Homo sapiens: one gene and its partner. The protein of the gene in region 2 purifies or fractionates together with the protein of the main gene of each other region. This does not show direct contact. Each region holds a gene or a part of one and is shown on either strand. Other genes may lie near its edges.

Region 1 (3,500 bases), on a different chromosome or scaffold from region 2:
ATACCCACAGGTGTGGAGGGGCAGGCCACCCCTTCAATAAGTAAAATTTAAAAACAACAAAAAAGCCACTTAGCTACTACAGTCTAGATTTGATTCCCCAGCAACAGAATATCCCACAACTCACACTGGGGTCATCCAGTCCTTTTTGTTTCAGTGTTGTCCTTTTTGGTGTATGAAACAAGGACCTGAGAAGCTGGCTCTTTGGTCTTCCTTTTCTTTTCACTGTCTATGTAAGAAACCATCTAAATCTAAAAGTGCCTCCTCCTATCTTTACCAGTCAAATCAACCAAACCTTGGAATTGCCTTGTGTGTGTATGTTTGACAATTTACAAGGTTCAAAAGTAAAAATTAGGCTGGGCACAGTGGCTCATGCCTGTAATCTCAACACTTTGGGATGCCAAAGTGGAAGGACTGCTTGAGCCCAGGAGTTTGAGACCAGCTCAGGCAACATAGTGACCCTGTCTCTACAAAAAATACAGAAATAGCCAGGTGTGATGGTGCACACTTATAGCCCTAGATACTTGGAAGGCTGGGGTGGGAGGATTGCTTGAGCCTGGGAGGTTGAGGCTGTAGTGAGCTGTCATTGTATCATGGCACTCCAGCTTGGACAACAGAGCAAGACTCCATCTCAAAATAAATAAATAAATAAATAAAAAGGCCAGATTAGGTGGTTCACATCTGTAATCCCAGCACTTTGGGAGGCCGAGGTGGGCGGATCATGAGGTCAGGAGTTTGAGACCAGCCTGACCAACATGCTGAAACCCCATCTCTATTGAAAGTACAAAAATGAGCCGGGCGTGGTGGCACGTGCCTGTAATCCCACCTACTTAGCAGGCTGAGGCAGGAGAATCACTTGAACCTGGGAGGCGGAGGTTGCAGTGAGCCAAGATCATGTCATTGCACTCCAGCCTGGGTGACAGAGCGAGACTCTCTCCAAAAAAAAGAAACGAAAAGAAAACTATATTTAGGTTGCCGGTATCTCCTGGCCACTGGCTGCCACTACAGTTCATTTATCTGGAACCTGGGCTCCTGAAGATGCAGCACTGGAGCAGAGAGATGATGTTGACAGGGTGTCTTAGTCCATTTTCACACTGTTGATAAAGACATACCCAAGACTGGGTAATTTACAAAGAAAAAGAGGTTTAATAGACTCACACAGTTCCATGTGGCCGGGGAGGCCTTATAATCACAGCAGAAGGTGAAAGGCATGTCTCATGGTGGCAGGCCAGAGAGAATGAAAACCAAGTGAAAGGGGAAACCCCTTATAAAATCATCAGATCATGTGAGACTTATTACCATGAGAACAGCATGGGGGAAAACGCCCCCATGATTCAGTTATCTCCCACTGGGTCCCTCCCACAACGTGGGAATTATGGGAGCTACAGTCAAAAAAATTTGGGTGGGGACACAGCTAAACCATATCACAGAGGTTGATGAATGACCCAGTCACATTAGAAATAGGTGGACTAAGCCAGGCGCAGTGGCTCACGCCTGTAATCCCAGTACTTTGGGAGGCCGAGGCGGGTGGATCACGAGGTCAAGAGATCGAGACCATCCTGGCCAACACGGTGAAACCCCATCTCTACTAAAAATACAAAAATTAGGCCGGGCATGGTGGCTTACGCCTGTAATCCCAGACTTTGGGAGGCCGAGGCAGGCGGATCACGAGGTCAGGAGATCAAGACCATCCTGGCTAACAAGGTGAAACCCCGTCTCTACTAAAAATACAAAAAATTAGCCAGGCATGGTGGCGGGCGCCTGTAGTCCCAGCTACTCAGGGAGGCTGAGGCAGGAGAATGGCGTGAACCCAGGAGGCGGAGCTTGCAGTGAGCCGAGATCGTACCACTGCACTCCAGCTTGGGTGACAGAACAAGACTCCATCTCAAAAAAAAAAAAAAAGGTTGGGTGTGGTGGCCTGTGCCTGTAGTCCCAGCTACTCAAGAGAATCGCTTGAACCTGGGAGGCAGAGGTTGCAGTCAACTGAGATCACGCCACTGTACTCCAGCCTGGCGACAGAGCAAGATTCCATCTCAAAAAAAAAAAAAAAAAAAAAAAAAAAAAATCCTGCCTACTCTGAAGGCCAAGGCAGGAGGATTGCTTGAGCCCTCAGGAGTTTGAGGCTGCAGTGAGCCATGATTGTACCGCTGCACTCCAGTCTGGGTGACAGAGCAAGACCCCATCTCAAAAAAAAAAAAAAAAAAGCATCTCAAATTATTTAACCAAATGGACTAAGCACATAATAATAATGGACTGTACAGACTGCCAGGTTTCTTTCCTATACTTTGTGCGATTATCACCAGGAAGTTTCTCTCTGGGTCTCATAATCCACAACACCTGAGTGTATCACATGAGTGTGCAGGACAATGAAGACACAGTGGAACACAACTAGACTTTCTGTAGACTAACCTGGAAGGCAGGTCTCTAATTTCCAAACCAGAAGTTCCTGGAAACTGAGTTCAAGGAAATAGAAGAAACTGATTAAAAAAAAAAAATTACAGTGTGGTTGAAGTCCAGAAATTTCTAGGCAGCTGGCTGGGCACAGTGGCTTGTCTGTAGTCCCAGCACTTTGGGAGGCTGAGGTGGGAGGATTGCCTGAGACCAGGAGTTTGAGACCAGAGGAAAAGAAAATGACAATGTGGAATTGTAAAAAAAAAAAATTTTTTTTTTTTTTGAGACGGGGTCTCACTCTATGTCGCCAGGCTGGAGTGCAGTGGCATGATCTCGGCTCACTGCAAGCTCCACCTCCTGGGTTCACGCCATTCTCCTGCCTCAGCCTCCCAAGTAGCTGGGACTACACACACCCACCACCTCGTCTGGGTAATTTTTTGTATATTTAGTAGAGACGGGGTTTCACCGTGTTAGCCAGGATGGTCTCGATCTCCTGACCTCGTGATCTGCTGGCCTTGGCCTCCCAAAGTGCTGGGATTACAGGCATGAGCCATCGTGCCCGGCCAAAAATTTTTATTTATTTGAGGACCAGAGAGAAGTTTTGTGCTTTAGCAGACTCCTCCGTGTTTTCTTCTTTTCACCCTGTTCAAAGTTTCCAGGTATTGGCTTTTTTTTTCTTGCTGTTTTTGAGACAGGGTATTTTGCTCTGTTGCCCAGGCTAGAGTGCAGTGGTGTGATCACAGCTCACTCCTGCCTCAACCTTGTGAGCTTAAGCAATCCTCCTGCCTCAGCCTCCCCAGTAGCTAGCACTACAGGCAAATGTCACCATGCTTGGCTAATATAATTTTTTTTTTTTAGAGATGGGGTTTCACTATGTTGTTCAGGCTGGTCTTAAACTCCTGGGCTCAAATGATCCTCTGTCTCAGCCTCCAAAAGTGCTGGAATTACAGTCATGAGCCACTGCAACTGAATTGCCTTTTTTTTTTTAAAGAGACATTCTTGCTATGCTGCCCAGCTGGAGTGTAGTGGTGGGATCACAGCTCACTGCAGGTTCAACCTCCTGGGCTCAAGTGATCCCTCAGGCTCAGGTGATCCCCCTGCCTTAGCCTCCA
Region 2 (3,500 bases):
ATTAGCCGGGTGTGGTGGTGGGCGCCTGTAATGCCAGCTACTCAGGAGGCTGAGGCAGGAGAAGCGCTTGAATCCAGAAGGTGGAGGTTACAGTGAGCCAAGATCATGCCACTGCACTCCAGCCTGGACAACAGGGGGAGACTCCATCTCTAAATAAGTAAAGAAAGAAAGAAAATAAAAAAATTAAAAATTACAGGGCTGGGCGTGGTGGCTCACGCCTGTAATCCCAATACTTTGGGAGGCTGAGGCAGGTGGATCACGAGGTCAGGAGATCGAGACCATCCTGGCTAACAGGGTGAAACCCCATCTCTACTAAAAATACAAAAATTAGCTGGACATGGTGATGCACGTTCTGTAATCTCAGCTACTCAGGAGGCTGAGGCAGGAGAACTGCTGGAACCCAGGAGGCGGACGTTGCAGTGAGCTGAGATCACGGCATTGCACTCCAGCCTAGGCAACAGTGCAAGAGCGAGACTCCGTCTCAAAAAATAAAATAAAATAAAATGAAAAATTACAGGCTGGGCCTGGCAGCTCACGTCTGTAATCCCAGCACTTTGGGAGGCCGAGCCGGGCGGATCACGAGGTCAGGAGTTCGAGACCAGCCTGACCAACATGGTGAAACCCCGTCTCTACTAAACATACAAAAAAATTAGCTAGGCGTGGTGGCGCGTGCCTGTAATCCCAGCTACTCAAGGGACTGAGGCAGAAGAATAGCTTGAACCCGGGAGGCGGAGGTTGCAGTGAGCCGAGATAGCGCCATTACACTCCACTCTGGGCGACAGAGTGAGACTCCGTCTCAAAAAAAAAAAAGAAAGAAACATAACAAAAGGATATGTTGTGAATACGTCCATCCCCATTCTCCATAAAAAACATCATTGGGCCTGGCACGGTGGCTCATGCCTGTAATCCCAGCACTTTGGGAGGCCGAGGCGGGTGGATCACGAGGTCAGGAGATCAAGACCATCCTGGCTAACATGGTGAAACCCCATCTCTACTAAAAATACAAAAAATTAGTCGGGCATGGTGGTACATACCTGTAGTCCCAGCTACTCAGGAGGCTGAGGCAGGAGAATGGCGTGAACCCGGGAGGCAGAGGTTGCAGTGAGCCGAGAACGCGCCACCGTACTCCAGCCTAAGTGACAGAGCAAGACTCCATCCCCCACCCCCCAAAAAAGAAAATAATTGGCTGGGCGTGGTAGCTCACGCCTGTAAGTCCAGCACTTTGGGAGGCTGAGGCAGGAGGATCATTTCAGCCCAGGAGTTCAAGACCAGCCTGGGCAACATGGTGGAACTCAATCTTTAAAAAAAATACAAAAATCAGCCAGGCATGGTGACCTGTAGTCCCAGCTACTTGGGAAGCCAAGGTGGGAGGATCACTCAAGCCCGGGAGGCAGAGGTTGCAGTAAGCCAAGATCTCGCCACTGAACTCCAGCCTGGACAAAAAAGTGAGACCTTGCCTGAAAAACAAAAACAGGCTAGGTACGGTGGCTCACGCCTATAATCCCAGCAATTTGGGAGGCCAAGGTAGGCAGATCACTTGAGGTCAGGAGTTCCAGACCAGCCTGGTCAACATGGTGAAACCCTGTCTCTACTAAAAATACAAAAATTAGCCGTGCGTGGTGGCACATGCCTATAATCCCAGCTACTTAGGAGGCTGAGGCAGGAGAATCACTTGAACCTGGGAGGCAGAGGCTGCAGTGAACCGAGATCGCACCACTGCGCTCCAGCCTGAGTGACAGAGAGAACATCTCACACACACACACAAAAAAAATCCATTTCTTTCCTTCTGTAAATATCACATATATGCAAATCCACCCACCCATATTTCTGTATATGTTCTATTACCCCCCTCAAATATTAAATGGTAAAAGAAACACTTATGTGGTATTATTTAACAATGCCAATTGAAAAAACACAAATACTTCCTGTTAAAAAAAAATAAAGTCAACTTAAAATTATTTATCAGTGGATTATATCTTCTTTGCATTATGTTTGGAGAGTCTCCTCTGTCATTAAGATGAGTTCTGATCATTTCATTTAATTTTCTCAATGACTCAACGACATAGGTAATTAGGCAAATAATGTACATAACACACTTTGCTTGCCACAGTAAATGGCAATTTCAATACCCTTACCTAGAATACTCCTGGTCAAATCAAAGAACGCTAAAACATAAAGCAGGAAATAAAATTTTCCCAAATGCTGGCCTGGCATGGTGGCTCACACCTGTAATCCCAGCCATTTGGGCGGCTGAGGTGGCAGATCACTTGAGGCCAGGAGTTCCAGAGCAGCCTGGCCAACATGACAAAATACCATCTGTACTAAAAATACAAAAATTAGCCAGGCGTAGTGGTGTTCGCATGTAGTCCCAGCTACTCCGGAGGCTTAGGCAGGAGAATCGCTTGAACCTGGGAGGTGGAGGTTGCCGTGAGCTGAGATCACGCCACTACACTCCAGCATGGGCAACAGAGTGAAACTCTATCTCAAAAAAAAAAGTTTACCCCAAATGCTAAACACTAATTCAAATCAAGATCACAATAAGGCGAGGCACGCTGGCTCACGCCTATAATCCCAGCACTCTGGGAGGCGAAGGTGGGCAGATGACCTGAGGTCAGAAGTTGAAGACCAGCCTGCCCAACATGGTGAAACCCTGTCTCTACTAAAAGAAATACAAAAAATTAGCCGGGCGCAGTGGCTCGCTCCTGTAATTCTAGCACTCTGAGAGGCCAAGGTGAGTGCATCACCTGACATCAGGAGTTCAAGACCAGCCTGGCCAACATGGTGAAACCCCATCTCTACTAAAAATACAAAAATTAGCCAGGCTTGGTGGTGGGTGCCTCTAATCCCAGCTACTCAGTAGGCTGAGACAGGAGATTTGCTTGAACCCGGGAGGCGGAGGTTGCAGTGAGCTGAGATCGCGCCACTGTATTCCAGCCTGGGTGACAAGAGCAAAACTCCACCTCAAAAAAAAAAAAAAAAAAAAAATTCCACAATAAATACAGACCCATGCACCTTTTGCTTCTTCAACTCACAAAACCACTTTGCTTCCAGTCCCTAATCACTAACCTGGAGCTTAGTCAGCATGCCAGGGCTCTCTGATGGAGGCCCAGGGATCACCTCTGGCTCTTCTTCCACCTCCTCAAAACGGGGTATTCGTCGCTTCTTTACTCCTGATGATTCTTTAGAGATCTCAGAGTCATCACCAAACACCTCCTAAGGGAACCCAAGATGAAAGAAAAGCTGTATCCCTCCCCGTGGGGAGAAGGGAAGAATTATCCTAGCCCCTACCAGCATTTTCTGGCTATTCCCAGGGGAATATGACACAACCTTGCAAATAGCCACCTGCCAGAAGCAGGGTCTACTAGACTCTCCATCTCACCCAACTTCAACATTCTCCTAATCCAGTCAAACAAATTTCATTCCCATGTTCTTATAAATGTTCCCATCTCAAGGTCTTTGCAAATGCTACTGCTCACATTTATAATGATTTCTCTCAACTT

What was found. Proteins that work in one complex are often made in the same cells at the same time.
Region 1: the proteins of PRPF3 (region 2) and CENATAC purify together in Homo sapiens (affinity purification with mass spectrometry; 4 studies listed by BioGRID and IntAct, with this or other methods). This does not show direct contact.

The regions. Positions count from the first base shown.
Region 1 is NC_000011.10:119,004,638-119,008,137, reverse strand, and holds part of CENATAC (centrosomal AT-AC splicing factor), read right to left. Parts: intron 1-3,500. UniProt on the Homo sapiens protein: Component of the minor spliceosome that promotes splicing of a specific, rare minor intron subtype. Negative regulator of centrosome duplication.
Region 2 is NC_000001.11:150,328,033-150,331,532, reverse strand, and holds part of PRPF3 (U4/U6 small nuclear ribonucleoprotein Prp3), read right to left. Parts: intron 3,214-3,500; coding exon 3,067-3,213; intron 1,082-3,066; exon of another isoform or gene 1,035-1,081; intron 1-1,034. UniProt on the Homo sapiens protein: Plays a role in pre-mRNA splicing as component of the U4/U6-U5 tri-snRNP complex that is involved in spliceosome assembly, and as component of the precatalytic spliceosome (spliceosome B complex).